Regions from separate parts of the Homo sapiens genome. Here regions 2, 3 and 4 are each linked to region 1. Evidence: fine-mapped expression QTL. A gene starts in region 1. Each other region holds a variant in brackets. All regions are shown on one strand. Distances are between the middles of the regions.

Region 1 (8,127 bases):
TGAAGATTTTCTCCCATTCTGTGGGTTGTCAGTTTACTCTGCTGATTCTTTCTTTTGCTGTGCAGAAGCTTTTTAGTTTAATTAACTCCCATCTATTTATCTTTTTTTTGTCCTGATCATTAGTAATGTTGAGAATTTTTTCATATGTTTGCTGGCCATTTGTATATCTTCTTTTGAGAATTGTGTATTCATGTCCTTGGCCCACTTTGTGATGATATTACATGTTTTTTTCTCGCTGATTTGTTTGACTTCCTTGTAGATTCTAGATATTAGTCCTTTGTCAGATGCATAGTTTGTGAAGATTTTCTCCCATTCTGTGGGTTGTCTGTTTACTCTGCTGGTTCTTTCTTTTGCTGTGTAGAAGCTTTTTAGTTTAATTAAGCCCTATCTATTTATCTTTGTTTTTGTTGCATTTGCTTTTGGGTTCTTGGTCATGAAATGTTTGCCTAAGTCAATGTCTGGAAGAGTTTTTCCAATGTTATCTTCTAGAATTGTTATGCTTTCAGGTCTTAGATTTAAGTAGTTGATCCATCTTGCGTTGATTTCTTTGTAAGGTGAGAGATGAGAATCCAGTTTAATTTTTCTACATGTGGCTTGCCAATTATCCCAGCATCATTTGTTAAATAGGGTGTCCTTTCCCTACTTTATGTTTTTGTTTGCTTTGTTGAAGATCAGTTTGCTGTAACTATTTGACTGTATTTCTGAGATTTCTATTCTATTCCATTGGTCTATGTGCCTATTTTTATACCAGTACCATACTGTTTTGGTGGCTATAACCTTGTAATATTATTTGAAGTCAAGTCATATGATACCTCCAGATTTGTTCTTTTTGCTTAGTCTTGCTTTGGTCGTGCAGACTCTCTTTTGGTTTCATATAAATTTTAGATATGTTTTTTCTAGTTCTGTGAAGAATGATGATGATATTTCAATGGAAATTACATTGAATTTGTAGTTTGCTTTTGGCAGTATGGTCATTTTCACAATATTGATTTTACATATCCATGTGCATGGGATGTGTTTCCATTTGTGTCATCTATGATATCTTTCAGCAGTGTTTTGTAGTTTTCCTTGTAGAAGTCTTTCACCACCTTGGTTAGGTATATCCCTAAGTATTTTATTTATTTTGCAGCTATTGTAAAATGGGTTGAGTTCTTGATTTGATTCTGAGCTTGGTCGCTGTTGGTGTATAGCAGTGCTACCAATTTGTGTACATTGATTTTGTATCCTGAAACTTTACTTAATTTGTTTATCAGGTCTAGGAGCTTTTTGGATGAGTCTTTAGGGTTTTCTAGGTATATGATCATATCATCAGCAAAAAGTGACAGATTGACTTCCTCTTTGCTGATTTGGATGCCTTTATTTCTTTCTCTTTTCTGATTGCTCTGGCTAGGACTTCCCATCCTCTGTAGAATAGAAGTGGTGAGAGTGGGCATCCTTGTCTTCCTCCAGTTCTCAGGGGAAATACTTTCAACTTTTCCCCAATCAGTATAACATGGCTATACGTTTGTCATAGATGACTTTTATTACCTTAAGGTATGTCCCTTCTATGTCAGTTTTGCTGTGGGTTTTAATCATAAAGGAATGCTGGATTTTGTCAAATGCTTTTTATTTTTCTGTTGAGATGATCTTACGATTTTTGTTTTTAATTGTGTTTATGTGATGTATCACATTTATTGACTTGCAGATGTTAAACCATCCCTGCATCCCTGGTATGAAACCCACTTGATCATGGTGGATTATCTTTTTGATATGCTGTTGGATTTGGTTAGCTTGTATTTTGTTGAGAATTTTTGCATCTATGTTTGTCAGGAATATCGGTCTGTAGTTTTTTGGTTGTTGTTGTTATGTTCTTTTCTGGTTTTGGTATTAGCGTGATACTGGCTTCATAGAATGATTCAGGGAGGCTTTCCTCTTTCTCTGGCTTTTGGAATAGTTTCAATAGGATTTGTACCAATTCTTCTTTAAATGTCTGATGGAAATCAGCTGTGATTCCATCTGTTCCTGGACTTTTTTTTTTGTTGTTGGCAATGTTTTTTTGTAACCATTTTAATCTTGCTGCTTGTTGTTTGTCTGTTCAGAGTATTTCTTCCTGGTTTAATCTTGGAGGTTTGCATATTTCCAGGAATTTATCCATCTCCTCTAGGTTTTCTAGTTTGTGTGTGTAAAGGTATTCATAGAAGACTTGAATGATCTTTTGTATTTCTGTGTTATTGGATTTAATATATCCCGTTATGTTTCTGGTTGAGCTTATTTGGATCTCCTCCCATTTTTTCTTGGTTATTCTTGCTAATGGTCTATCAATTTTGTTTATATTTTCAAAGAATCAGCTTTTTGTTTTATTTATCTTTTGTATTTTTTTGTTTCAATTTCATTTAGTTCTGCTCTGATCTTTGTTATTTCTTTTTTTTTTTTTTTTTTCTGCTGGGTTTGGGTTTGGTTTGATCTTATTTCTCTGGTTCCTTGAAGTGTGACCTTAGACTATCTATATGTGTTCTTTCAGACTTTTTGATGTAGGCATTTAATGCTATGAACCTTCCTTTTAACATCGCTTTTGCTGTATCACAGAAGTTTTCATAGGTTGTGTTATTGCTATCATTCAGTTCAAGTAATTTTGAAATTTCCATTATAATTTCATTGTTTACCAAAATATAATTCAGGAGCAGATTATTTTATTTCAATGTATTTGCATGGTTTGAGGATTCCTTTTGGAGTTGATTTTTAATTTTATTCCACTGTGGTCTGAGAGCATATTAATATAATTTTGATTTTCTTAAATTTATTGAGGCTTGTTTTGTGCCTATCATATGATCTACCTTGGAGAATGTTCCATGTGCTGATGAATAGAACATATATTCTGCAGTTGTTTGGTAGAATGTTCTGAATATATCTGCTAAGTCCATTTGTTCTAGGGCATAGTTTAAGTCCATTGTCTGACTTGTTTTTGATGACCTGTCTAGTGCTGTCAGTGGAGTATTGAAGTCACCCACTATTATTGTGTTGCCTCTTATCTCATTTCTTAATTCTAGGAGTAATTGTTTTGTAAATTTAAAGCTCCAGTTTTAGGTGCATATGTATTGAGGATTGTAATATTTTCCTGTTGGACTAGTCCTTTTATTATTCTATAATGTCCCTCTTTGTCTTTTTAAATTGTTGTTGCTTTAAAGTTGGTTTTGTCTGATAAACGAATAGCTACTTCTGCTTGTTTTTGGTGTCCATTTGCATGGAATATCTTTTTCCATCCATTTACCTTACATTTATATGGGTCTGTATGTGTTAGGTGAGTCTCTTGAAGACGCAGATACTTGACTGGTGAATTCTTATCCATTCTGTCATTTTGTATCTTTTAAGTGGAGCATTTAGGCCTTTTACATTCGATGTTATTATTGAGATGTGAGGTACTGTTCTATTCATCCTGCTAGTTGTTGCCTGACTACCTTGTTTTTTTTTTTGTTTGTTTGTTTTTGTTTGTTTTTTATTGCTGGTGAGCTTGTGTGATCATTTGGGGTGTCAATGAATCTTGCTTTGTCATATCATCAGAATTGTTTTTCTGGTTCCTTCTCATTTGGGTAGACTATTTCAGAGGAAAGATCTGGGACTCAAGGGCTGCTAATCTGATTTTTTTTTCCTATGGGGTGATCCCTTGATGTGGTGTTCTTTTTCTTCCCCTAGAAATGGAGCTTCCTGAGAATAAAACTGCAGTGATTGTTATTGTTCTTCTGTGTCTAGTCCCCCAGTGGAGCTACTGGGCTCTGGGCTGGTATTGGGGAGTGTCTGCAAAGATTTCTGTGATGTGATCCTGTGAAGACCTGTCTTCAGGTCTCTCAGCTGTGGATGCCAGTACCTGCCCCAGTGGAGGTAGCAGGGAAGCAAAGTGGACTCTGTGAGAGTGCTGGTTGTAGTTTGTTTAGTGTGCAGATTTTCTCGAATGCTGGTTTGCTAGCAGTGAAGCTGTCATGTGGACAGACTCAGGACCTCTGGTTAGCCAGGGTGTTACAGGTGGTGTTTTCTCCTTTCTTGGAGTAGGATTGTTCTAAGTTGCTGTAATGGCTTGAGTTGGTTGACTTCCAGCCAGGAGGTGGCACTTTTAAGAGAGCATCAGCTGCGGTAGTAGAAGGGGGATACAGGCTTGCCCTAAGTTGGCCAGGGTAAATATTCAGTCGTCTCAGGTAATAGGTGAGGCCATAGAGCTCCCACAAGTTTATATCTTTTGTCTCTGGTTACCAGGAAGGGTAGAGAAAACCATCAGGTGGGGGCAGGGTTAGGCAGGTCTCAGCCTAGACTCTCCTTGGGCTTGCAGTGGCCACTTTGAGGGATATGGGGTGTGTCTCAGGCCAATGGAGTTATGTTCCATGGGAGATTATGGCTGCCTCTGCTGCTTCCTACAGGTTGCCAGGTAAGTGGTGGAAAGCCATCAGTGACAGGCCTTACCCAGCTCCCATGAAACCAGCAAGGCCAGTCTCATTCCTGCCATACTCCCCCAGCAGCCAACAGTGCCCAATTTATACCCAGGCCTCTGGTGCACAGGGCTGAGATCCTGCCCCAGGCTACAAGACTCCCTGCTGAGAGAGCAAGCATGGCTTTCAGTCCTCACCCTTCCCTTCCTGTTGCGGCTTCTGTGCTCCTATCTGTACTTCCCGTTCCCCACACCCCAACCCCCTGGACTCTGCCCAGGAAAATTTGTCGTCTTTGGAAATTATTACAAAGTTCAGCTGGAAGTCTCCTTCTCCCTGTGGACCTTCCCCAATTCCACTGGCTGCCCTCCTCAAGGACCCCTGTGAGATAAATTCAGAAATGGCTATCCTTGGCTTCCCTGGGGAACAAGAGTGCCTGCAGTTCTTTTCCCACTTCTTTTACTTTTCTATTTCACTGGGCTCTCTAAATTCATTTCAGCTCTAGGTAAGGTTAAACTCTTCTCCCGTCTTCTGGATTTTCAGGTTCTCCAGGGCCGATGTATGTTTGGAGATGGATTTCCCCCTCTCACACTTCAGGCACTCAGTTTTTTGGCAGTCTCATGGAGTTTTCAGTGGCAAGCCGCTTATTTCAAATGGTCTGTGAATTCTTTTGGTTTTTCTGATATGTTCCTGGTGTGATTCTTCACCAATTTTATCTCGAATTATATTTTATTCTACATTATGATTGCTATTATTTCCTTATTTTTCTTTGTATTTATGATATATTTCTGCCATTTAAAAAATTTCTTACTACTTCTCTGACATTTGACTTTTGGTCTTTTTCTATTAAGTAAAGATTTTAAAATAATGTTTTAATTTGAGAAACTTTAGTTTTTAATTGAACTACTAAAACGTTTTACACTAATTATATTATTCTTTCTGATCTTGTCAGAGATTCTCTATTTTGCTCACCTATTTCTTTTCTAGCTGATGTTTATTATATTGACTATATTATTATTATTTTTTCTTTTAGGGATTTGGAAAGGATTCCGTGATGGTTAATATTGAGTGTCAACTTGATTGGATTGAAGGATGCAAAGTATTGTTCCTGGGTGTGTCTGTGAGGGTGTCACCAAAGGAGATGAACATTTGAATCAGTGAGCTGGGAGACACAAACCCATACTCAATCTTGGGGGACACCATCTAATCAGCTGCCAGTGCAACTAGGATAAAATCAGGCAGAGAAATTTGGAAAGACTAGACTGGCTGAGTCTTCTGGCCTTCATCTTTCTCCCATGCTAGATGCTTCCTGACCTCGAATATCAGACTCCAAGTTCTTTAGCTTTTGGACTCTTGGACCTTTGGCCACAGACGGAAGGCTGCACTTTTGAAGTTTTGGGACTTGGACTGGCTTCCTTGCTCCTCAGCTTACAGATGGCCTATTGTGGGACTTCACCTTGTGATTGTGTAAGTCAATACTCCTTAATAAACTCTGCTTTATATATATATCTATCCTATTAGTCCTGTCCCTCTAGAGAACCCTGACTAATACAGATACACAGAAAGTTCAATTTTCTAAATTTTAAGCATTTTAAAACTTACTTGGGTCTATTTTTCTCTCATCATCTATGAACAGAGTAAAACAGTAACTATTATCATTCACATCCCTCCAGCTCAGATGCTACATTTGGCATAATTTTCACATTACTATTTTTCCTTCACACTGTTTTGCTGATATAATCTCAGATTTCAGATCCAGGTTATTATTAATTATTAGCTTAATATTTTGTATTTTTATCTTGTAAGTACTACATTTGAAATTTTAAAGCTAATCACTCTATAGAGCTAAGAATTCTATTTGCTGAGTTATTTATATTTATTTCTTAGTTGACTTAAGTGACTAGTCAAATAGTTTTTTTCACAAAGAATTTTATATGACATTGCCTCTCAGTCTAGTGTATCTAAAAACAACTTTCTGTCGCTCTAGCATATAAATATGAGCTTTTCTAACTAAAATGCCTTGGATCTCAATCTTTTCTGCCCAAAGCTCTGTAAACCTTTGTTTTTCTTAGCATTTAATATTGCAAATAAAGTCTGATCTACAGACATTCTGTTTTTTTGTTCCTTTATGGTTCATGGGATTATTTCATACGACAGAAATGTATTCTGAGGGGTACTGGAATATATCACTTCAAAATAAGCCTCTTTGGAATACAATTTTTTTTTATTTTTATTTTTTTTTGTTAAAGGCCACTGAGAAAACTTCTGCCTATTTGTCTCTAATTAATCTGTCTTTGGCTAGTCTAATTCACAGGGCCTCTGCTGGAGAACCTAAGATGAGTAGAGGAAATGATTTGTTGTTTTCCTCTCCTGAAATACCTAACTGTGGGTGTTTATATTAGCAATGATTTTTATCTTCACATTTTTTTCCTGATCTTAGATTGTTTCTTCCATAACATTACACTCCTCATATTAATCTTTTTCAAGGGAATGATAGAGAAATTTATCACAACAGCTGTTTATTTTATTCACTAGCTCAGGCAAAAAGAGCTCGTCCAGGCTCTCTGATTGTCTTGACCATCACCAGACAGATAAGGTGCCCTAAGTTTTGGAGTGGAAGGGTCACTGTAAGCTACCCGCCTACTTTCCATAAGTGCTGATGTTCCACAGGTAGGACAAAAGTGAGTTGGTCCTTTAGGCTTCCATCAAATCTTCGACATGGGCACAGATGCTCCTTGACTTACAATGGGGTAACATCTGGATGAATCCATCATAGGTCAAAAGTATCATTAGTCTAAACGCATTTAATACACCGATAAACCCATCTTAAAGTCAAAAAACCATAAGTCAAACCATCGTAAGTTGGGACCAGTCTATGTAGGATCTAGCAGATTATTTTAACTTTCTATATGTGGATGATATTCTTCACAGTTTCCAGAGCTGATGCAAACTTCCTGTTGTTTTGATATTTGGTCAGCCATTTCCAGCTACAAATATGGGAACTCGGGAGGATCTGTGCTCTAATCTTCAGTCTACCATACTCCCAGCACTTTAGGGGTCTTAAGTCTGATAAAGTTTTGAAAAGGAAAGAGAAAAGCTGCATTCTGTGCTCCTGAGACAGGGAAGCCCAGCGGAAATAAAATATCCAGGATGTGGAGCGGGCGAGATTGTGCACCATTAGTATGTAAAGCCTTGATTCAGATGGATGGTTAGGAGTACAGTGCCAATGAGAGAGAAAGAGAGAGAGAGAGAGAGAGAGAGAGAGAGAGAGAGACACCTCTGTTTGGACCGGGCATCTTTGCTGTTTGAAAGAAACCTTTCATCCAGACAGTTTGAGTCTGATCTTACCTCATTCTACTGGTGAGCTGTACTATGTCTTGCACAGTGCTGCCTCCCTTTTTTTCTGTGGCTCTTTGACACCCCCACCTCCCTGCCAGCCTGGTGTGGCTGATCAAGCTGTTCAAACAACTGGAAGACATCAGAAGTTAAACACTCATTATTTTAATTTGATGCTAATCATGTGTTAATGAGACTAATCCTTGCAATGATTCAGGTAATTTGCTTAATGGCTGCCCAGAGTACAGATTATAGCAATCAGTCACGTCTGATAAGATGTCTGTTGTGGAGGAGGCTGTCAGGTGAATGAAGTGGGAAAAGGCTCAGGAGTAAGGGTCTGATGTCAGGCATGTTCTGTGTTGGAGGGTAGGAGTTAAGGGAAGGAGACAGCTCAGAAATC
Region 2 (8,127 bases), 50 kb before region 1:
AAAAGGTTCTTCAGCGCATGAAAAGTGCCTTAGTCCTTAAGGAAATGTAAAGTCACAATGAGTTACCACTTCACATCCACTAAATGCCAACACCAGATGTTACAGGTGTGGGTCAATTTTCATACATTGATGGTGAGAAGGTACAACACATCTGTCCCATGTATCACAACTCTACTTTTAGGTATTGAAGAGATAAAGAAAAGACTTGTACAAGAATATTCTTATTATAAAGTCTAAAATCTTTTTGTGTGTATGAACAAAGAGGTTCTTTACTTTTTAATTAAATAATAAAAATTGTTTACATTTATGGTGTCAACATGATGTTTCAATATATGTATACATTGTGGAATGGCTAAATAAAACTGATTACCATATGCTTTACCTCACATGCTTATCATTCTTTTGTGGTAAGAACACTTAAAATCTACTCTGCTAGCACTTTTCAAATACACAATATATTGTTATTAACTATAGTCATTACGGTATTTCTTATATGGATATTATAATAAATTTATTACCTCTGTCTAACTGAAATTTTGTATCCTTTGACCAACAGTTCTCTAATTCTTTCAATCTTTTACCTCCTATCTCTAATAACCTCAATTTTACTCTCCACTTCTATGAGTTCAACTTTTTTAGATTCCTTTTACAAGTGAGGTTATGTGGCATTTGTCTTTTTGTTCCTGGCTTATTTCACTTGGTATAATGTCTTCCAGGTTCATCCATGTTGTTGCAAATGACAAGATTTCTTTCTTTTTAAAGGCTAAGAAGTATCCCACTGTGTATATATACCACATTTCTTTATCCATTAGTTAATCAATGGACACATGTTGATTTCATATCTTTGCTTTTGGGAATAATGCTACAATAAACGTAAGAGTGCAGCTGTATCTCCAACAAGCTGATTTAATGTCCTTTGTATATCTATCCAGCAGTAGGATTTCTGGATCATACGATAGTTAATTTCAGTTTTTTGAGGAACGTCCATACTGTTTTTCATAACAGCTGTACTATTTTACATTTCCATCACCAGTGGCTAGGGTCCTCTTTTCTCCACAGTCTCACTAACACTTGTTACCTTTTTGTCTTTTTTTCCAGTAGTCATTCTAACAAATGTGAAGTAATATCTTATTTTGGTTTTAGTTTGCATTTCTCTGGTGATTATTGTTGAACATTTTTCCATGTACCATTTGGCAATTTTTATGTCTTCTTTTGAGAAATGCCTATTTACCTCTTGCCCATTTTAAAATCTGCTTGTTTTCTTGCTATTGAATTGTTTGAGTTCTTAATACATTTTGGATATTAACTTATCAGAGGTATGGTTTACACATATTTTTCTCCCATTTCATAGGTTATCTCTTCACTCTGCTTGTTGTTTTGCTAAGCAGAAGCTTTTTAGTTTGATGCAATCTCATTTGTCTATTTTTATTTTTGTTGCCTGTGTTTTTGGGATTATATCCAAGAAATCATTGCCCAGACCAATATCAAGAAGCCCTTTCCTTTATAGTATGAGATAAGGGCCCAATTTCATTCTTTTGCATGTGAATATCCAGTTTCACTGACACCATTTATTGAGACTGTCTTTTCCCTCTTGTGTGTTCTTGGCATCTTTGTCAAAGGTGAGTCAGTTGCCTGTAAATGCATTACTTTGCTTCTGAGCTACCTGTTCTGTTTCATTGGTCTACATGTCTGCTTTCATGCCAGTAAAATTTTGTTTTGATTACTATAGCTTTGTAGCAAACCTTAGAATCAGGAAGTGTGAAGAGTTCAGCTTCGCTCTTTTGCTCAAGGTTGTTCTGGTTATTGGGTATCTTTTGTGGTTCCATGTGAATTTTAGGATTATGTTTTTCTATTTTTGTGAAAATGTTATTGGAATTTTGGTGGTAATTGTATAGAATGTGTAAGCTTGCTTGGGTGGTATGGACATTTTAACATTTTAAAATAGGCATTTAATTTTAATAGTGATATTTCCAATCTATGAACATGGAATATTTTTAAATTTATTTGTGTTTTCTTCCATTTCTCTCATTAATGTTTTATAGTTTTTAGTGTACAGATTTTTTTCAACCTCCTTGGTTAAATGTGTTCCTAATTTTTATATTTTACTTATATGTAGCTATTGTAAATGGGATTGTTTTCCAGATTTTTTCAGATAATTTGTTATTAGTGTATAGAAATGCTACTGATTTTTGTATGTTGATTCTGTATAGTGATACTTTCCTAAGTTACCTCATTAGTTATAAGTCTTTTATTTTTAATTATTTTATTTTATTTATTTTCTTATTTTTACTTTTTTTTATTTGTATAGAAATGGTTTTCTGTTCCTGTGCTAGTTCACTTAGGATAATGGCCCCCAGCTCTGCCCATATTGCTGCAAAGGACATAATCTCATTCTTTTTTATGGCTGCATAGTATTCCACGATGAATATGTACCACATTTCCTTTAACCAGTCTACCACTGATGGACATTTAGGTTGATTCCATGTCTTTGCTATTGTAAGTAGTTAATAGTAGTTTCTTATGATTCTTTGTATTTATGTGGTATCAATTGTAATGTCTCTTCCTTCATTAATGATTTTATTTATTTAAGTGTTCGCTCTTTTTTTTCTTAGTTGGTCTATCTAAAGTTTTCTCAATTTTGTTTATTTTTTCAAAAACGTACACTTGGTTTCTTTGATGTTTTGTGTTGCTTTTCTAGCCTCTATTTTATTTATTTCTGCTCTGAAAGTTAGTATTTTCTTCCTTTTGCTAAATTTGGGCTTAGTTTGTTCTTTTTCTCATTATCCGAGGTGTAAAGTTAGGTTGTTTGAGATTTTTCTTCTTTCTTAATGTAGGAATGTAGGTATTTATCACTGTATCTTCCCCCTTAGAGTTGCTTTTGTTACAGTTCATAATTTTGGTATATTGTGTTTTCATTTTTCTTTTTATAAATATGCTTTTTGATTTCTCTTTTGATTTCTTCTTTGACCCATTGATTGTGTGGATATAGGTTGTTTAATTTTCCCTTATTTTTGAATTTTCCAATTTTCTTCATGTTATTGATTTCTAGTTTGTTACCAATGTGGTCTAAAAATATGCCTGATGTGATTTCAATCTCCTGGAGAATATGCCACTTTCATTTGAAAAGATTGTGTGTTTTTGCTGCTGTTATATGAAATGTTCTATATAAGTCTGTTGGGTACATTTGGCGTATAGTGTTGTTCAAGTCCACTATTTCTTTACTGATTTTATGTCTGGATGATCTATCCATTATTGCAAGTGGGACATTGGAGTTCCCTACTATTAGTATAATATAGCTGCCTATTTCTTCCTTCAGTTCTGTTAATATTTGCTTTATATATTTAGTTGCTTTAATTTTGGGTGTTACACATTTTTCATACCAATAGTCATAGCCATTAACCAAATATGGTCATTGTGTCCTTAAAATGGGGTTAATGTGGTTAAGAAACTGAATTTTTAGTTTTATTTCATTTTAGTTATTTTAAATTTAAATAGTCATTGCTAGTGGCTATCTATTGGACAGCACAACTCTGTATAGTTAACAACAGATTTACTCAGCCTCTGTTTTCTATATACATTGTAGTTACAGGCTAGTTGCATACAAAAGTAACCTGTACATTTCTTCTGACCTCAACTACTGGTGGCCTCATGGCTTCATGCACCTTCTAGGTTGTGGCATGTGCCGCAAAACAGTTGGATAGAACCCTAAGTGAACATCTGGTTTAGCCTCGACAAATGCTTTCCTCACTACCACCCAATACCAGAAAGAGTTAATTGTTCCTGGCTGTTGGTCTTCCAATTTAAGCTATTTGATCTTTGCATGCTCGGTATGTCTCCCTTAAAAGAGAGTTGCTTGCTATATTGCATGTTGAAAATATTGAAAGGTGAGAGATGGTTATTCTTGATCACTCTTTAGATTTAACCACAATGTTGCTGCAAATGCATCTCGCAAACTACTAGGTGAAATCATGGAAAATTCTGGAAGAAAAGGAGAGAGGTGTAAGTCATTCTGCCTTATTTTATGCATCTAATAATGACAGTAATTATTTTGTAAACACAAAATTTAGAGGAAAAAATGCTAACCTGGATGGATGCCTAGTTAATAGATATAATCTGGGACTGTCTCAGGAAAATTGAGACATATGGTCACCTAATGGATAAGCCATTATCTTGCTTCAAACAAAATTTCAACCATAGAGAAGAATAAATAAAAGCATAAGGAATTTATAATTGGAATCAAAACTCTAAAAAATTCAAAAAGCATAAAAGAGGTGAGATTCACTTAATATTGTGTTTTGGGGAGAAATGTACTATTAAATTATCATCTGTTCTCTCAAAACCAAGTGAAGAATTAAATGCATGTGAAATTCACAGTAGAAAATAGTTTATTTCTTGTAAAACGACAGTTTCTGCTAAAAGTACAGCCAAGTCTATTTAATATGTGATTAAAGGCAAATTTTTTTTGAAGTT[T/C]TTGCACATTGGGGTGAAAGAGAAAGGACTGGAAGTATTTCTATCATGAATTAATGGTTTACTCCTGAAAAGCATTCAATTTCTAAATTAAATATTTTGAAAAATAAGAAACTGTTGTAAGCATAAGTTTTTAATAAGATCAGTGTATCCTCTGTTTATTTGATAGTAAGTAAGGAAACAAGCAACTAATCCTGTAATAAACTAATAGCAGTTACATAAAAATATCAATTAAATTGATATTTGGGGGAATCTACTAATTTTTATTACACATCTCAGTCCAACTTACAGAGTTATAAAATCCACTGTTAGCCAATATATCTGTGTAAATTTGTCTGCCTAGAGTGAAGGATCTGGCTTATAATGGTACCACCAAATCCACAGAAAACTTAACGAAATTAAAGACAAAATTAAGAACAAAAGTGAATGAATATTATATGTACTTGATGATATGGTTTGGCTGTGCCCCCATCCAAATTTCATCCTGAATTGTAGTTCCCATAATCCCCACGTGTCATGGGAGAGACCCGGTGGAGATAATAGAATCATGGGGGCGGTGCCCCCATCCTTTTCTTGTGATAGTGAGTTCTCATGAGATCCGATGATTTTATAAGGGGTAAGCTTACCACTTTGCTGGGCACTCATTTCTCTCTCCCGCCCTGTGAAGAGGTACTTTTTGCCATGATTGTAATTTTCCGGAGGCCTCCCCAGTCATGCAAAACTGTGAGTCAATTAAACCTCTCTTCTTTATAAATTGCCCAGTCTCAAGTGTTTCTTCATAGCAGCATGAGAACAGACTAATACACTTGGTCATTTACATATTTTGGATTTAGTAGTGTTGAAGGTTTCTAAGGAAGCGAAAGAAGTTAGGAATGCTGTCACTATTGTGTAAGTGATTAGTCATATATTTCTGAATAAACTGGCCATTTTATGAAGTATGTAAATAGAGCAAAGCCAATAAATGCAGAAACCTTCACTCATCCAAAATATGTTGTACCTATTATGCACTTACTGGTGGAGAGGGAGGGAGTCCCAGAGATTATCAAAAACATGAACAATTACGTTGAAAACTCCTCATTCAAGTGGCCAAGGAATCAAGTGTTCTGTGGATATTAATATCCAAATTTAAATTTATCTTAGTTTAAAAATTATATTTGAAGTAAATAATATGCTTTTCTTTTATGTTCAAAAGTTTCTTGTTTGACATCTGAAAGAATGACAAATTCAGAACTATTTTTCCTTATGTAAAGAAAAAAATCTAAAATAAACATAGACTAAGGAGTAATTTAGAATCTATTTTATTAGTATACAAATTTATATTTTAAATTTGTTGAACTAATTTAAAGTATAGAAAATAATTTTAAAGAATAATGCATTTTGGAACTATCATTTAATTGGAGGGAAAAAGCTGCAAATGACTTTTGGGTAAGTGTATGCAAGAATTTTATAGACTTAATATGACTATGGTCCCCAAAACTTACTTTTATCATACCTCTGTCTATCTTAAATGCATCAAAGCCATTTAATCATCTTGGTACTTTGTTAATGCTACAAGGTTTTCAAAGTCATATTCCTTTTATTATTAAATTACTACATATTGCTGAGATTTGGCCAATGGTTCACTTCACAAGGGTCCTAGCCCTGCCTCATTGTACATTATTATATTTATTAAATACGTATTATGAAGTATGGCACCAAAATTAAGGTTTCTTTTACTCTTAGGCTCTAAAATATTAATATCTGTTCTTTTAGTTTGAGACTTGAAACTGATTATATATTTAATTTCAAAACCTACTCTTTCAAAAAAAGATTTATATTTTTCATTTTTACCCATTGATTGTGAAAAGAAATAGGATTACCCCACATCATTGAAAAAATAACTACAAGTCTATCTTTCCTGAAAAAAGTATAAATTATTTTGATATATAATTAATGCTTTTTACATTTCTAACTAAAGTTAGCATCTCTCATTTCTGTTGTTTCATAGGTAGATAGATTGATGTATTAGGGTTCTTAGAGAGAGACAGAACTAATAGAATATATATATATATATATGAAGGGGAGCTTATTAAGTATTAACTCACACAATCACAAGGTCCCACAATAGGCCATCTGCAATCTGAGGAGAAAGGAGAACCAGTCTAAGCCCCAAAACTGGAGAACTTGGAGTCCGATGTTTGAGGGTAGGAAGCATCCAGCACGGGAGAAATATGTAGTCTGGGAGGCTAGCCCAGTCTAGTCTTTTCACATTTTTCTCCCTGCTTTATATTCTAGCCACACTGGCAGCTGATTAGATGGTGCCCACCCAGGTTATGGGGGCAGGGGCCTTCCTTTCCCAGCCCATTGACTCAAATGTTAATCTCCTCTGGCAACACCCTCACAGACACACCCAGGAGCAATACTTTGCATCCTTCAATCTAATTAAGTTGACACTCAGTATTAACCATCACAATTGATAATAGATGGTAGATGAATAGAGAGACAGATGACATATAGGCAAACAGAGAGACAAACATAGATTTGTGTCTTGTTTTTCTTATATCTTTACCAACCTCCCATTCCCCTTTACCCAAATTATCATACATCTCATGGTATGGACGGTGGTCACTCTTAAAACATTGCATGAAATGATAAACTGACTATTTTATAGAGAAAGTTGTCTTGCAATCTCCTGGATTAACATATTTTTACTACGAGATTCCCCGAAATGTTTTATATCCCAGTACCTACTAGAGTGCTTGTTGATAGTAAGACATATAATATTTGTGAAACAAAAAAAAGTGCTACTTAAATGCAAGATTCTTATTGGACATTGCCCTTGTAAGACTGCTGTCACTGCTCTCATTCTTAACATGTTCTTTTTTTTTTGGACAGGGTCTAGCTCTGTTGCCCATGCTGGAGTACACTGGTACAGTCATAGCTCACTGCAGCTTTGACTTCCTGGAGACTCAAGGGATCCTCCCACTTCAACCTCCTGTGTAGTGGGACTAAATGCGTGTACCAGCACACCCATCTAATTTTTTAAAAAATGTTTTTGTAGAGATAAGATCTTGCTTATGTTGCCCAGGCTGGTCTCGAACTTCTGGCCTCAAGGAATCCTGGCACTTGGCCTCCCAAAGTGCTGGGATTACAGACATGAGCCACTGTGCCCAGCTTAACTTAGTATAGCTTTTATAAGTTTATTCTCCGACATTTCACTTTCAGTTTTCTGGATAAACTTATTTTGTCATCAAGTAGCAATTTTGGTAACATTAGTTTGGACAATAGAGGGAAATTTCATGCATATCTTGTCTTATCCAAATGTTCAGATACCTGTTTTTGAAACTTCAGGTAATTCTATTAAGGTAGAGTCTAGGTAGGTATCCATATTATATTCTTGTTTAAAGGAGGGTTATTCTCTATATACTGAATGATAAGATTCTTTGATTTAAAAAAAAAATCAAAAGATATATTTGATAGCCCTAGGACCTAAATGGGTTGCCAGGTTCATAACTTAGAAGAATTTGCTCTTTATAACTTAGCTCAAGAAATCATGCTTTCATTGCATGCTTTCAAAACATCCTGTCAAAAGACCTCACTGAAATTAATGGCTCAGAACCGATGCTAAGCTTTCAAGGATGCTGCAGTGATTTATTGAGTGGTGCCAGTCTCCGGCTTCAC
Region 3 (8,127 bases), 79 kb after region 1:
GATGAGTATGAGTTTTCCAGTCAGAAAACAGGTACGGGGTTTGAGGATGGTGGGGAGGGGATTCCTAATCAGAAAACAAGAAGGCAAAGAAAACATGGAGACCTAAAAGAGTATGGCTTCTTCCAAGAATTAGACTGAATTTTGCAGTATAATGTACCAGGAAAGTAGGTTAAATGAGCTTAACTAATTAGACAAGAGTTGCTAAAATGTTCAATCAAACTTCACAACATCAGGTCAACTGGGGGATGGCTGTGCAAATATTTTTTAATCCCATATAGTTTTCTTTCTTTCACTAATTTGAATTGCCTGCAAACAAAAAGTTTTCAAATAAAGGTCCTGTTAGGACTATTTTAATTTCCAGATAGCATTCAATACTTTGCGAAGAATTAATTTGTTAACAAGTTAAAAAGGTAGGTTTTTCCAACTCTGCCCTCTTAACTTAGATAACTCCTTTTCATATGTCGGGCAAGGGTTGCAGGGCAAAATTGTCAGTCCAACCCAGGTCAAATGATTACACATCTCAAATTAATTGCAGCTGAGCTAATGAGGCTGTATTGGCTTTGTAGTGGACTAGACAGGAATTCAAAAGAGTTGACAATAGAGAAAAATTGGAGTACATTTAGAAAATTCTTAAAAGAATTTAGATCAGTGCCTCTTAAACTTTACTGCATATATGAATCATCTGGGAATTTGTTAGTAATATAGATTCTGTGTTCTCAGTATGCCTGGGTTTAATTTTATTATTATGAACTGTTCATAAACTCCTAGGTCAGGCTGATGCTTTTGGTCCATGGACCACACTACCAGTAGGAAAAGTAGAATATTTCCTGATCTTTAGAATTAAGAGAAATAAGAAATCTTAGAAAAATCCCAATATGTCAATGCCATATATCTTTATAGTAATCAGCCTTTATCTACTTAAAATGAGAGAGAAGAAAATTTAAGTCTTCAAGGGTAAATCACAACATTAAAAAAAAAGTCTGCTCCTGGATACTTATGTTTACAAATAAGCTAAGTAATTTGCTCATGTAGGATGACCAACTACCTCAGTTTGCCAGGAGGATTGTCCTCATATTAACACTGAAAGTCTCATGACACAGAAATCCCTCAGTCCTAGACAAATGGCCACACTTCATAAGGCACGTGTTGCATTAAGAGAGTTCTCATGGTCTGTTCAAAGTATCATCTTATTATCTATGACAACATTATTTTAAAAAATTAAAATGCTGTATTTGGAATCAACTTGTTTTGTAATTTGGAAGAGGAAAGGAGGGATATTCATATCTTTTATGACAATGTGACCTAAAACTTACTTGCTGAGACAAGCAGTTAACCATGTGACTTTTGTTACTCTTTCATTCTTAAAAACTTGAGCTAAAGAGAAAATATTGATTTAACATAGAAAGTGAACTTTATTTTTGACTTTATATCTACTTCTTTTTGTTTTACCTTGTCTACCTCTCAATTTTTCCATGTTGTTTTCTGATATATTATTTTAATTATTCAAAATATTAATGGAACAGAATATCTTCTTTTAAGTTATGAATGCAATCAATTTTGAGTCTTTAATTTTTTTTCCATAAAATATTTTAATTTAGCCTAATATAATGGCACATCAACCAGTAATAGGTACATTAAATTGAATCATGATGCTCATATACACATTTTATGACACAATCAAATATCTTAATGCATTAATTCATATCTATCAGTTAATAAAATCAAGTAGGAAACATTTCGCTATTGCTGCTAACTGTACTTATCCCATTTACTGGATGAGAAGTCTAAAAAATCTCAACAACTTGATTCTCAGGACTTTTTTCCTTAGATGTCTGGGACTTGGCTATTACTCTAGCTTTTACTAAGTTTATTGGCTGTGGATAAACTAAGAAGCTGCCCCAAATTCTACTTTATGCTTCAGGTTTTCATGAAGTGAAACCATTCTTGTCAAATTAGTAACACACGGAGTCATGCACATATTGTGCCAAATCTGATGGAAAAGTGGTAATGGCTCCCCAAAGGTACCTTAGATCTTGTCTATCATTGACACATCATTAGGAAGTTATTACTTCTGGTGCATTAAATGTTAACCCAGAGTCTTAGAAAAGTTAAAAAGTGAATGGACAAAAGCAAATTATTAGATAAATTAATTACTTTTTTTTGTTCACTATTTTTAGGCTGGAACTGTAGTGGATATTATTTGAGATAAGTTAATATACAATATATATTATCTTATTTTAAAGAGTCAAATACTATTTAGTAAAGCGTGATTAATATACCTGAAACAACTAGAAAGCAATTAAATACTCATCTACAAAGAACTATCTATAAGCTTAATAGGATTTTATGTTCAATATGTTGCTCTTTTTTCTATTTTTCTTCTTCAACTTTTCTTTTCTTTAGACCTAGTATGTGTTTCATGCTAAGCAGAGTATAGTGCATTCTGCTTTACTCAGATAACTAGTTCAAAGTAGCTTAAGGAGAGAAGGTGATTCATTGAAAGGACACTGGAGTGTGTAACAATACTGAAAGAAGAGTTGACTAAATAAACTTCAGGAAGAGCAAGGGTTCCACTGGGCCTCAAGTATAAGATGATAAAGCGGACAGGCCATGACTGTAATCCCAGCATTTTGGGAGGCCAAGTTGGGAGTATTGCTTGAAGTTCTAGAAGAGCTTGGGCAACATAGCAAGACCCCTATCTCTACAAAAAAAAAAAAAAATAGCGGGGCATAGTAGTGTGCACGTGTAGTCCTACCTACTCAGGAAGCTGAGGTGGGAGGATTGCTTGAGTCCAGGAGCTCGAGGTTACAGTGAACTATAATCATGCTACTGCACCCTAGCCTGGATGACAGAACAAGACCCTGTCCCTAAAAGAATAAAAATAAAATGATAGGGAACTGAATTTCATCAGGACTTTCTCTCTCCTACTCTCCATGCCAGCTCTCCTCTGTCCTACTGCAGACCATCTTCCTCCATATGATAGGTAACATTGCTGCTGACAGTTCTTCATTTTACATTTCACGGGTACCACACCAGATGCTACTTTCTTTCCCTATTTGAATGCAAAACATTGCAAAAAGGAATTCAAACTAGCCTGACAGGGCAGGTAGCTCCCATACCCACATTGATAATATAGGATCAAGTTGCCTGAGTAATATACAAGTATAACAATACCCAGCAGAAATGATGGTGTGGAAGGAGGATGGCTCTCATAGAAAGGGAACACTATTCCTGGAAAAACAAAAAGGAGCTGAGCGGTTGTAACCTAGAAGTCCACCATGTACACAATTCTCATGTAATCCTTTCAAAACTTTTAAAAGCAAATATTTTTATTAAAGATTATTATTTTCACTTTTTCTTTTTTCTTTTTTGAGACATCGTTTCGCTCTTGTTGCCCAGAATGGAGTGCAATGGCACGATCTCGGCTCACCACAACCTCTGCCTTCTGGGTTCAAGCCATTCTCCTGCCTCAGCCTCCCGAATAGTTGGGATTACAGGCATGCACCACCACACCCAGCTAATTCTGTATTTTTAGCAGAGACGGGGTTTCACCATGTTGGTCAGGCTGGTCTCGAACTCCCGACCTCAGATGATCCGCCTGCCTCTGCCTCCCAAAGTGCTGGATTACAGGCGTGAGCCACCGCGCCCGGCTATTTTCATTTTATACATTTGAAAATTTCTTTCTTCCACACATGATACTCTGCTGACTTTCTGTACATAAGGTACAATATGACTGGTAATTTCACCGGTTTAGCTTTGTCTTTGACTCTATTAGAGCTACAAATCCTTCCACAAATGGCTAAATACTGAGGACATCTTGAATAGAATTTGTAGACCCCTACCTCACTTGAACTCTAAAACCTGCCTGTGTCTTTCATTTGGTCCTCCTACTTTGAAATTTGACCTCGACCTCTGCCCCAAATCATTGTCT[T/C]AGTTTGGGTCCCTTACATGTAGATGTGCAGGCTGTCAACTGCCCAACTGGTAGAATGCCATTCTCCAAATGAATGGAGGCCCCTGGGGTTGTAAAATGTGGAGGATCCTTCTCAGACTTGTGCACCTTCTAACAATTTCTGCTGTACTAGGCCTTTCCAGCCTATTCCATTTTTCAGTCTCCTCTCTTCCATTGTCCAGACTAACTACTTCCAAAGGTGAGATATTTTTCTTGTCCTCCTCAGAAAGATGGGTATTTTATATAATAAGATGAATTAATTGGATATGAAGACATACAGGATTTCTTGCCTAATACACAGTGGACTCTGAAAGCCAAGATGGTATCCTCTAATATCACCTTCCCGATTATTTAACTGCTCCATCTAATTGTGGCCACCTGGTTAAACTGACATCTTTTTCTTGCCTTTGCTCAACCATGGCTCAGCTGTGTAGACTACGTGTTTGCTATCACTTAGGGCTTGCCATAAATTCTATCCTCAAGCTCCAGCTAAGGAACTAGTGAATTATCATGTGTGTGGAAGGGACTAGCACATATACATTAATGACAACAATGACATTTAGAAATGGGTCATTTTCCTCTTTCTCAGTAAAGATAGTCTTTGTGGATTTAAATCATTAATGCTGTTTTTTTCCCCTCACCATTATGTTACCATAAAAATATTGAAGTGTAACAAATGATTTGCTTATCTATTACTACTAACGAAATGGTTGGAAAGAGCTTAGAAACAGTTTTCTGCTTTTATTTAGCTGAAAAAAAAACAGTTTCTATAGCTTCCTTTTTATGCAAATGAAGATGCCTACTCTTTTTGCAGACGTTATTATGGAAGGATATCATTGATCATGTCCTCAGGGTAATAAATAATTACTCTACTAACGTATTGCTCTGAAAGAAACTGACATGAAGTAGTTTCAAATTAACCACTGCTAATTGCATGCATTGTTTCATACTTATTACTGCAATCTGATTAACATGCTACTGAATAGAACTGGCAGGAAAGGTTCTTTCTGCTGTATTTCAACTTGTTTTAGCTAAAAACTTGGCTAAATGTGAAATTTACAAAGTTAGAAGGTTAAATCTATTGCTGAGGAAAACAGGATCATTGTGGTATAATGAGCTTGACCACTGCCAGAATTTTTATTTTACGAATTTATGTTTGAGAAATTGACATATTTTTTAGATTTCCAATAGGAAAAAATGTCCTTTATTATATGCACAATCTGTTATAGATTAAAACACTAAATCTCTGATATGAAGTTTCTTCAGTAAACTCTTCAACATAAGAAAAACAGTGCCACTTTTCAATGTAAAATGAAATCTGTAAGAATAAAAACATCTCAATTTTGGCCTTGTTACTAAATTTGCCATAAAAAATCTAAATTACTATAAAATGGAACTTTAAAAATGGTGTATATTTGCTATTATAATTGTTATTCCTACTTATCTTCCCAAGATAAATGGGATGATATAGAAAGACAAGTGAAATTGTTATGCTTATAAATGTAGAGTTAATCAGTTACACTAGTGAGCATTTTTATCATAGCTATCCTGTGCCTCTGTCCTAAGTTCAAGGGCAAATTATATACTGAAAATGATATTTTGATAAAAGTTGCAAATCTACATTTTATGTACCTTTATTATGCACTTACGCATCAGTCTCCATGCAGTAAATGCACATGTTGTTCTATGCGGTTTACAGTTACTAAGTCATTTAATTTTAAATGACCCGATGGTACTATTAATATCCCTATTTTAATAGATGAGAAAACTGAGGCACAGAGAGGTTAAGTAATTTTCTCAAGGTTTCGGAGCTAATATTTAATACATGGTGGAGCTAGAACTCAAACCCATGGTGTCTGGCTCTAAAAACCATGCACTTAGGACCGGGCGTGGTGGCTCATGCCTGTAATCCCAGCACTTTGGGAGGCTGAGGCGGGCAGATACCTGAGGTTGGGAGTTTGAGACCAGCCTGACCAACATGGAGAAACCCTGTCTCTACTAAAAATACAAAGTTAGCTGGGCGTGTTGGCGCATGCCTGTAATCCCAGCTACTCGGGAGGCTGAGGCAGGAGAATCACTTGAATCCGGGAGGTGGAGGTTGCGGTGAGCTGAGATCATACCATTGCACTCCAGCCTGGGCAACAAAAGCGAAACTCCCTCTCAAAAAAGAAAACAAAACAAAAACAAAAAACATGCTCATTACTGATATACTATGCTGTCTCAGCATATGGACCTGGAAGATGCATTATATTGGTAGATAAGGTAAAATGTATGTTTTTGGAGGGTGGCATTGAAACTGATTCTTATGTTGTTATAACTTTGAAATGTTGGCCTGAGCTCTGATTTATAGCTGATACTGTTCCCCAGCTGCACACAGCTGATCTGTCTATGGCCTTCTGGTCCTTCCTTGGATCCCTATGTCCATCCTCCATTCTATGGCCCAGGGTTTACTCAGCACCCTGAACCCTAGAAGTTCACTTATAATTACTGGTTGGCTGTAGCCTCCTCATACTGGCCTGGGCTATACACATGTCTTTCCAGCTCTGAGTTTAATGACCTCACATTGGTGGCTTGGAATCAGCCAGGGCAAAAGTCTTTACAGCATGGAAACCAGCAAATGCCTTCTCCCCATCCCTCGCCCCATCACTTTGGCAATCTGGTTACTCACACAACACTGCCTAGGATCTACTACCATTCATATCCCAGGATAGGCATACCCCGAACATGGAGGTTTTCATGTGTTTTTACTGTATGTCCCCATATGGCATTATAATGTTAACATTCATGGGTCTAAGCCCTTCCTGGACACCAAAGAAGAACAAAAAAATGGCAGAATCTCAGCAATACAGCAGCAGTGGCAAAATATGATATGTGCTTTCCCTTACAATTCTGCATTTATTGCAAACATTACTAATCACTCATGACATGACAGAGCCTGGCCCCAGACCCAGAATCCTCATCAACATAGCACTCTAAAGTCTCGACAGCCACTGCCAACCACTCAGATTTGGTACATGAGATGAAATTATTTACTGTCCCTCTTAGAATCAGAAATTCTCATTTCTCCCTAGGATATTCCCACTCTGTATTATTTATAACACTTCCCTAAGTTATAGAAAGATTTCTAAAAATGATGACCATGAAAGAAAACTTGTTGTCCCCAAAATTTAAATATTTAGAGCATAAGATCCATCCGCTATTCTGCCTGATAAAATCAGTTATGCAATACTCTACAAAGTACTTCGGCATTTGTAATTTTCCTAAGGACTCCATGCTCATGTATTGATATTCATCCATAATTAAATATATATGTTTGATGTCAATATTCCTTTGTTAGTCAGTGGAAATATATGAGTTCTCTGTTCATTGAAACCAGCTCAATGGAAATATTCTTTGACTTGGTGATTAAAAGAAAGGAAATTTGTCTTGCTACTGATGTCAAAATTGTATCATTAAAACATTTTCTGAATATAGAACAGAGTAAGAAAAAGTTTAAAATGTTACTTATTATTTTTTCATCTTCCTCTTTTCTACCTCAAGCTCAAATTTTTAGAAACAATTCCCTTAATTTGTTCTAGTTTCAAAAAGAGAATTGCAGGGATATATGGAGATACATTTATAGAGTTTGAGTAGTTTAGAGGTATGTTTAAAGGGGAGCATTAATCTATCAATACAGTGAAAAAGCATCTATAAGTGATGAGATTGTATGGTCTATATCTGATATAAATAAGCTCACTTAATATCTACATATATAGTGAAGACTACTCATAATCTCAAGAGATTACTATCCAGACATGTGAAAATTGTATATCCACTTGCAAAATTCCCAAATAACATGAAGAATGCATAAATGCAAATTGAGAGGTTTACAACAATAGCTGTCAGAGGAAAACCTGAGCTAATTGGTGAAAGGTGTTAGAGGCAAGGTTCTGAAGCATGAATGAGAATTGGATGAATGAGAAATAAAATAGAGGGAATGTGAGAAGGTCTGCATGAGCAAAGGCTCCAAAGAAGGATGGTGTAAATCTTATTTAATGGAAAAGCACATCAGAATAGGGGCATTTGCAATGAGGGTAGTGGTCATAAAGAGTAGGTGACTTTGAATATCAAAATAAAGAATTGATTTTTATTTAGAATTGTGTATCGTTTCAGTCTATGAGGCCATTATATTTTTATCT
Region 4 (8,127 bases), 22 kb after region 1:
GATTTATAGATAATATCTTGAATACATTTTATATGTATATATTTCACAAAAGCCAGGTCAAAAGAACATGAAAAGAATAGAATAAATGGTAATAGATAACTGATAGAGCACATTTAAATTACTTACGTGTGTAAAGTGCTGCTTTAATATGTAAAATCTATTGCACATCTTTTTAAAAAATTATGATTGATTTTGATGTCAATATTATAATTTCTATTTTGACTTCATTGGAAAGATGGGATTTGATTTCTTGTGCCCATCACTGTAATATAGAGATATCCCCAAACTGGAATTTCAACTTATCTTCACCCAGGTTCTTATGATTTAATTAGACTATTGATTTTTTTTTTTTTTTGGCTGTGAGTTTTGCTCATTATACATTATTCTCTGCTCGGTTAGATAATATTGTCAATGGTTTGTTCAGTCCTCAGTTTTTCCAATTATTTTTATGCACTTTGGGTTTAATCAATTAATTTTCCAAGCTGTAAATTATGCATTTTGAGATCATAATTTGTTTTTAATGTATGTCTTAACACCATGATTTGTTTCATGTTTGTAATTAATTTTGGGCTTTGAAAATAAAATTGCATGACAAATCATTATGGTAATGCCACTGCCGTAGACAGCAAAGCTGAAATTTCTCAGATAAGCAAATTTTCTTTTCATTTTGATTTGTTAAAAAAGTTTAAACAGTTAAAAATGAGTGATATTGAGTCATGGCATTCCAGGAAAATACCAAGCACATTTTCACATTAAAGCGGGACTACCAATATCTAAGTCATTGTAATACATGCTGTATCATTACCTATTACTGCATAACAAACCACTCTAAAACTTAGATCCTTAAAATAATAACAATGTATTACTTTTCACAAGTCTGTGGATCAGATGGACTTTTGTGTTGATCTGATCCAGGCCTGATTGATCTTGACTGGACCTGCCCATGCATTTATGTTTAGTTAGCAGGTCATCTAGGTGACTCTGTTTCTGGGAGTTGGCTGGTTGTTGGGTGGAGTGATAGTGCTACTGGACCACATTTCTCTTCACAACCAACAGGGTAGGCAGGGTTTGATTATATATGGTAGTTGTAGGGCTCCAAGGGCAAGAGTGGAATCACGGAAAACTCCTTGAAACCTAGGCTCAGAACTGGCAAATCCTTTTGACCACATTCTATTTGCCAAATCAAGTTACAAGATTCAATTCAAGAAATGGAGAAATAGAATTCTCTCGATGGGAGAAGTAGCAGAGACTCAAATTCAGGGAGAAGAGAATTGTGGCAATTTAAAAAATCTACTCTTTTCAAATAAATCTGATCTTTCAACTAATCTTTCAGTTTTCAAGCTTTTCACCATGATGAATATTATTTTCCTATCCTCCTCTCTCTATCTCATTCATAAAGTATATTTCCGAAAATATATATTTGGTGCATGCAGATGTATTATTATTACTCAATATTCCACAGGTCCTTATACTATTCAGCTGCTTATTTTTTCCTTGTAAAAATTATGGTGGTCAGAACAGTATAGAAAAAGAAAGTTTAAATAATTAAACTTTGTGTCCTGTTTGGTATTATAAATATATGTTACTATCTACTGTGGAAACCAAATCTGTTATAACATATAAATATATACTACTATCTACTGTGGAAATCAAAATCAAATTTGTCCCAGGTTGTCATATAAACCTGAAAGTCTAGTTTTAAATTTGTTCACTCTCTATTTAGGTTTCATTGATTCAAATCCTGACTCTCTCTGTTGGGCAAGTAGCTTATCTTTTTTGTGCCTGAATTTCCTCATCTGTAAATTAGAAATAATAATCGTACCTGCCTTATACTTTTGTTTTGAGGATTAAATGAGGTTAAATATGTAAAACACTTAAAACAGTCCCTAACATATAGAATTACTCAATACATAACAGATAATGTTTTGATTAACAACCAAATGTCCATAACTGGCTTTCAGTTGACCAGCTTTTATACTTTTTTTTTTTGGTCTCTGTTAGATCATGTAACTAATTTGGGGAGAAAATGTTTGGAATTCAGTAAACAGTACTGATTGGGAAAATTAAACTTGAAATGTTCAATTTATATTTCAAAATGGAAATAAAAAATTAAATAAAATTTGGTGCAACAGATATTTGACTATCTCTTGCTACGTTAGTCCTTCTGATAGATGCTGTGAGTATAAGGAAGAGTAAGACATGGTTCTAACAATAAAGTGCAAAGATTCCCTATAATCATCTTATCCCAGGCTACCATGTTGATGACAGTATTTTTTTAAGTGGCTCCTGGGCATATATCATGGTCAAATACAAACAACATTATTATTAATTATTTTTCTTCAATGGTTGCCAGTAGAGGAGAAAAATAACATTGTAAAATCTGGAATAAGTTGTGGTATGGGGGTTGGAGGTGAGCTATGTGTTAAACAAATTGCAAAAACCTTTTGAGTCCTCTGAGGAGTACCCTTTCAGATCTATGGAATACATCACAGTGAAGAGGAGGGATTTAGGGAGAGAAGAAAAACAGTTAAACAGTGGCAATTTTAAATGAATTGTCACCATTTAAAAAATCTGCTCTTTTCAAATAAGTCTGATCTCTCAACCAATCTTTCAGTTTTCAAACTTTCCACCATGATGAATATTATTTTCTCATCCTCTTCTCTCTGATTCATAAAGTGTATTTCTGAAAATAGGTATTTTGTACATGCAGATGTATGTATCATTATTGCTCAATATTTCAAAGGTCCCAATACTATTTAGCCACTTATTTTTCCCTTGTAAAAATTATGGTGCTCAGAACAGCATAGCACAAGAAGGACACAGTGAAAGAGAAAGGGAGTGAGAATAAGCACATACATTTGAGCTGTTGGGGAAGGGAGTAGAAGGAGTAATCATTGATAATGATGGTAAATTTCATCGTCTAGGATATGAATGAGAAAAATATGGTGTGCTGGCTTTTATATGTGTGTATGGAATATAGAAAAAGCCATAGAATATTTCCAAGAAAATCTAGGAGAGCAAAATTAAGGACTAATTAAAATGTGTTTTTCTAGACCAAGGAATAATTATTAAGAGCATTTTTTGAGATTTCTTCAACCTGTAAAACATTGACCCTCCCAGGTATTCATTTAATAATTGTTACTAACCATAACAACAATATGTATGTTATTAATGTAGTTAATTTATGAGACAATAAATTAAATTTCTATAGCAGCCCCTAGGTAACAAACCACATGCACATTATGTCATTTTGATACCAAGCCCAGGCTGTTTCCCAGTGGAGACTAGATTGAAAAGTCCTCAAAGAAAAAGCATCCATTTTCTTTCATATGGAGAAGTGGCCCTTTCCATCAAATCCAAGGACAAAATAAGCCCAAGAGGTAGAAACATAACACAAATATATATTATGTTTGATAATATTTAACCATTTCCCAAATATGTGAAGTCACTACATATATATATACATATATATATATATATATTTTTTTTTTTTTTTTGACAGAGTCTTGCTGTGTCACCAGGCTGGAGTGCAGTGGCACAATCTCGGCTCTCTGCAATCTCCGCCTCATGGGTTCAAGGGATTCCCCTGCCTTAGCCTCCCGAGTAGCTGGGACTACAGGCGTGCATCACCACGCCCGGCCAACTTTTCTGTATTTTAGTAGAGACAGGGTTTCACCATGTTGGCCAGGGTGATCTAGCTTTCCCGACCTCATGATCCGCCTGCTTGGCCTCCCAAAGTGCTGGGATTACAGGCGTGAACCACTGTGCATGGCCGATGTCACTATTTTTTAACAAACCCAATCACAGGCAGACAAAATATGAAATATTATACCCATTTCATTATGTGAAGAAATTGCAATGCATTTTTATTTCTATTTGTACTTTGTACTTACCCTATACTTTAAAAATAAAATCTAAGAAATAAAAATTGCATGAGAAAATAAACAATAATAAAATTTTTATTTAGTCATTTGCAAAATAATTGACTTTTTAGAGCTTTATTTAAATATCTTTGTTATTTTTAATGTAAAATTTTGATAGGTTATGTATTTGACTATTGGTAGCAGATTTGGGAACATTAGAAGGTGGTTTTTAATGAGATCGATATTATTATGTTAATACTCCCTAAGATTCCATTAGGA[G/A]AAGATTTAAAAATAGATAAGAAATACAAGGACGGGAGGAGAAGAATGGAGAGAAAAAGAGAGAGAGAGGGAGAGGATAGACATCTAATTCTAGCTCTTAGATGTACAATATATAGTTTTATTTTGATAAAATGCCATCTTTAGTACTCAATTTTTCCTTCAACAACAACCAAAGATAGTGTTCACTTTGCTATAATTCTCTCCACTTGCCTTATCTCTGTTATCTTTTTTCTACCACACATTTATGTTAGGCAGCTCAGACTAACTACAAAATAGAAATACATTTCTTAGCAGCTGTTACCATAATTCTAAAAATATACTTTTCTTTCTTACAGGATTTCAAACCTTCTGGGTTTCTTCCCAGCGCTAAATCCTGTCGACTGGATTCACTAGGATGAATAGAGAAAGAAGTGTTACATTTTAAGATAATTTCTTTTCTAAACACACAGAAAGGTAATAATTCTGGCATTTTACAAAGCATGTCAATTAGCTTTCTCAATGCTTTTTTTTTCAATTGTTTGCTCACCAGTTTTGTTTTAGTCTTTTGCTTTCTTGCATATTTAGTTTTTAATTATTGGGAGTCATGAACTCATTGGAAAGAGTACACTCAGAATTAGGGAGTTGGGTACATCTTTGCATGGGGCAAATATGAAAAACATGAACAGCAATGACACTTATGATTAGTGTGCTCTACAGTGAACTTCCTATCATGCTCCCAGGAAGGAGGCTTAGCCTCTCCTGGAGTTCAGTGTTATACTACCAAGTCTAGCACATTGCTTTGCTTTTCCAAAATAGCAAATGTCTTAGCACTTACCTAATGATGATCTAAGGAAAAGTACTAGGGAAATGGCATTATTCTGAAGACTTTGTTGACAGCTGCAAACCATAGGCTATGATAGCATTAGGGAAATGGCATTATTCTGAAGACTCTGTTGACAGCTGCAAACCATAGGCTATGACAGCATTGCGGGAAAGCAAGAGAAGACACACCTCTTCCCCCTTCTAACAGAAACCCCTCCCCCAACACACACACACACACACACACACACACACACACACACACACACACACACACACACACACACTCTGGCTATACCCATGGTATGTACCCTTATTTGAGTTCTGTTCATACTGGACATAAATAATTAGATTTTAGATAGTTGGCAGTTACACTCCTCTTCTCTAAAAAGATTTCTTTTTTCTTCTGCACTCCTCACCAGTTAATCTGAGCTCTTTTGTTCTGCTAAAGGAAGATAAGGAAAAAATATTTCTTAGTTCTATTTAATCACTGGCATGCCAGTATTGGAGCTACTGCTCCGTGGAGACTGCCAAAACCTCGACCTAGTTACTGCTCCTTTTTGTGGCATCTTACCATGCGGTTTGTGGCACTTTGGAACACAAATTCACAGTTACCAGAAGTTAGGTTTATCACTGTTGCAAAGCCACTGAGTTCTGATCCAGAATCTCACAAACTGGTACATGCCCACGCAGATCTAGCCTGTCCAGAAGATGAACAGGAGGAAAAACGCAATGCCAAGAAGGAAGCAACCGGGTCCTAATTAATCAGAAACAAATAAGTCATTTTAATAGTGATGTTGAAGGAGATAGAAATGTATTCTTATGAGAACCCTATGTTCCACCAGGATGACACTGTGAAATTATTCTACTGCCAGTTATTGTCACTAAGTTCTGGAATACTGGAAAACAAATGAGTCATTTGGAGTGTGTTCCTATTTTTTGTTTTTATATTTTAATGCACTTCAAGATGTAACACAGCTTCATGGTCTCCTTTTTTAAAAAAATTTTCCTTACACTTAATTCCAAAATGATCCTTGATTAGCAGATGGATAGATATGGAAACAACCACTTTATCTGTGGAAATCAGTTATAAAAAGTGATAAAATACACTCAACATCCCCAAAATTCAGAGTTTAAGATGAGGAAATCCTTACCATTGCCAAAAGGAAAAAAAGAAAAAAGAAAAAAGATTTGAGTGTTGCTAGGACCATTTCATTCAGTAAATGTTTATCAGGCATTTGCACTTTTCTACTTTTATTGCTCATTTGATTTCTGCTGCTTGAAATATTCTCCACTCACTGTCTTTCCCTGAAGACAAACCCAAATGTCACCTATGTTTGAAGCTTTCTTTAATTGCCTTTTTACCCTGAACCCATGAGCCCTTCATTCTCCCTTTACCAAAATTCTCTACCATTTATTATGTACAGGATTGTTTAACACATGTCTTAAAAACACATCCTGTGCTATCAGTTCGAAATCTCCACCTTTGAGAGTTAGGCTTGTCTTATTCATATTTGCATTGTTTGCAGTGCATTGAATCTAGTGGTGGCTCAAGAAAATATTATGTTCAATTTAAAAATAGGTGTTCTATTTCTAGTTTTGCAGCATCTTACTGAACACCAGCACACACTGAAAATAGATCACATATTTCCCTGGCAAACAATTTACGATTTGAATTTTCAATGAGTCCAGCGTTGATGGACTTGTGACAGGACATGTGATTATTTGGTGGATTCAGAATGAACCTATTAATAGCTTTTCAGATAATTCATCTAACGTGGCTGTAGGAGCTTCACAAAGTAATAAAGAAGTCGAGATTTCAGTTAAGAGAGTATCAGACAATATGACTCCTGATGGACTGGGCATACCAACTTCTAGGAAGCTTTAGCAGAGATTTCATTGCAAATGGTAGAGAGAGTTAGCCTCTCTCCTCTTTCCCTTCGCACTATGTCCTAGGATTGGTTGGTTTTTAAAATTCTTTGTCAGAGAACTCCTAACACTGAAACAAAATAGGTAACAATGTTAGAAAATTGCATGAGGGAAATCTAGAAATGCTGACCTTTCATTTGAGAGTAAAGCACCTGAATCAGCTTTCAGATTGTCGAAAAGAAAACACAGCTATTTCCAAAACAACTAAAAAAGTAAATTAAAAAAACTATATTTGGAGAAGAAAATAATAGAAATAATCTGGAATTAGAGAATTAAAAAGTATAGTATAAAAGAGCTTAAACTGAGCAAGTTTTATTTTTTCAAGATAAATGAATGATGGATCTTCTTTGGGATTTGATTGGTAGACATTTTTTGTGCGTTTCTGAAAATGGAGCTGTTCCATAAGACATGAATTGGTCTTCAATCTAATAACAATTTCTAACACTGAACAGAATCTAGGAATCACTTCTGTTTTGAAGTTTCTATAATATGTAAGAATTATGACAACAGTAATGCCAGGCTTACAAATAAATAGTTGTTAAATAATAAGATAAATATATTAAAATAAAAAGCATTTCAAAATAAGCTCTGTACTCTCTAAATATCCACACTGTATTATCACCTTATTATATTTATTTTTACATATTCATTTCTGCATTTATTTTTATAAATCAATGCTCCCATCTACATCTATATTTATCTATCTCTTTATATAGCATCCTCAAGACACAAGGCAGATGCCACGTTCCAGTATGTTTTATGGCACAAAAAGGTACTCAGTAAATGTTAAATTGAATAAGTAAATATTGAAAGATATTGAGCTTAGACAGGCATAAATATAGGATCACACTGAAGGTGAGCTATGTGAAAATGTATAAGTGAAATCTGAAGTGATGGTTTCAATTTTGCTAATAAATAATTTTACAGCAACAGTTTCTAAGGGATGTGAAAGGACAGTGCTTTACCTAGTATTATTTGCTGGCATGAGTGAAATACATTTTAAGAGAAAATTACATGGATGAAACTGTCAACTTTCTTTTTTTTGTATTTTATTATTATTATACTTTAATTTTAGAGTACATGTGCACAACTTGCAGGTTTGTTACATATGTATACATGTGCCATGTTGGTGTGCTGCACCCATTTAACTCATCATTTAGCATTAGGTATATCTCTTAATGCTATCCCTCCCCACTCCCCCCACCCCACAACAGTCCCCGGTGTGTGATGTTCCCCTTCCTGTGTCCATGTGTTCTCA

Direction of the effects. Alleles are on the strand shown, and positions count from the first base shown. SD is a standard deviation of normalised expression in the study named. Not every link is listed here.
With allele C in place of T in region 3, the expression in visceral fat of the gene that starts at base 4,866 in region 1 is lower (small effect, 0.25 SD a copy in GTEx).

Evidence for each region. PIP is the estimated chance that this variant, and not a neighbour inherited with it, causes the effect.
Region 2: its variant is the best candidate, but not a certain one, in a credible set for the expression of LINC00989 in whole blood (INTERVAL, PIP 0.52).
Region 3: its variant is the best candidate, but not a certain one, in a credible set for the expression of LINC00989 in visceral fat (GTEx, PIP 0.66).
Region 4: its variant is the best candidate, but not a certain one, in a credible set for the expression of LINC00989 in whole blood (INTERVAL, PIP 0.74).

The regions. Positions count from the first base shown.
Region 1 is chr4:79,487,728-79,495,854 of GRCh38, forward strand. LINC00989 (long intergenic non-protein coding RNA 989) reads left to right here and starts at 4,866. Exons shown (of 4, transcript NR_038826.1): 1 at 4,866-5,047; 2 at 5,425-5,858.
Region 2 is chr4:79,437,310-79,445,436 of GRCh38, forward strand. No RefSeq gene overlaps it. Among named protein-coding and RNA genes, the nearest start is that of GK2, 33 kb to the left of the region's middle. The variant T/C (reference allele first, on the strand shown) is at 4,471.
Region 3 is chr4:79,566,735-79,574,861 of GRCh38, forward strand. The region is part of intron 3 of LINC00989 (long intergenic non-protein coding RNA 989); the gene reads left to right. The region is part of intron 1 of LOC107986294 (a long non-coding RNA gene); the gene reads left to right. Among named protein-coding and RNA genes, the nearest start is that of LINC00989, 78 kb to the left of the region's middle. The variant T/C (reference allele first, on the strand shown) is at 3,932.
Region 4 is chr4:79,509,308-79,517,434 of GRCh38, forward strand. LINC00989 (long intergenic non-protein coding RNA 989) reads left to right here. Exons shown (of 4, transcript NR_038826.1): 3 at 4,478-4,595. Among named protein-coding and RNA genes, the nearest start is that of LINC00989, 21 kb to the left of the region's middle. The variant G/A (reference allele first, on the strand shown) is at 4,143.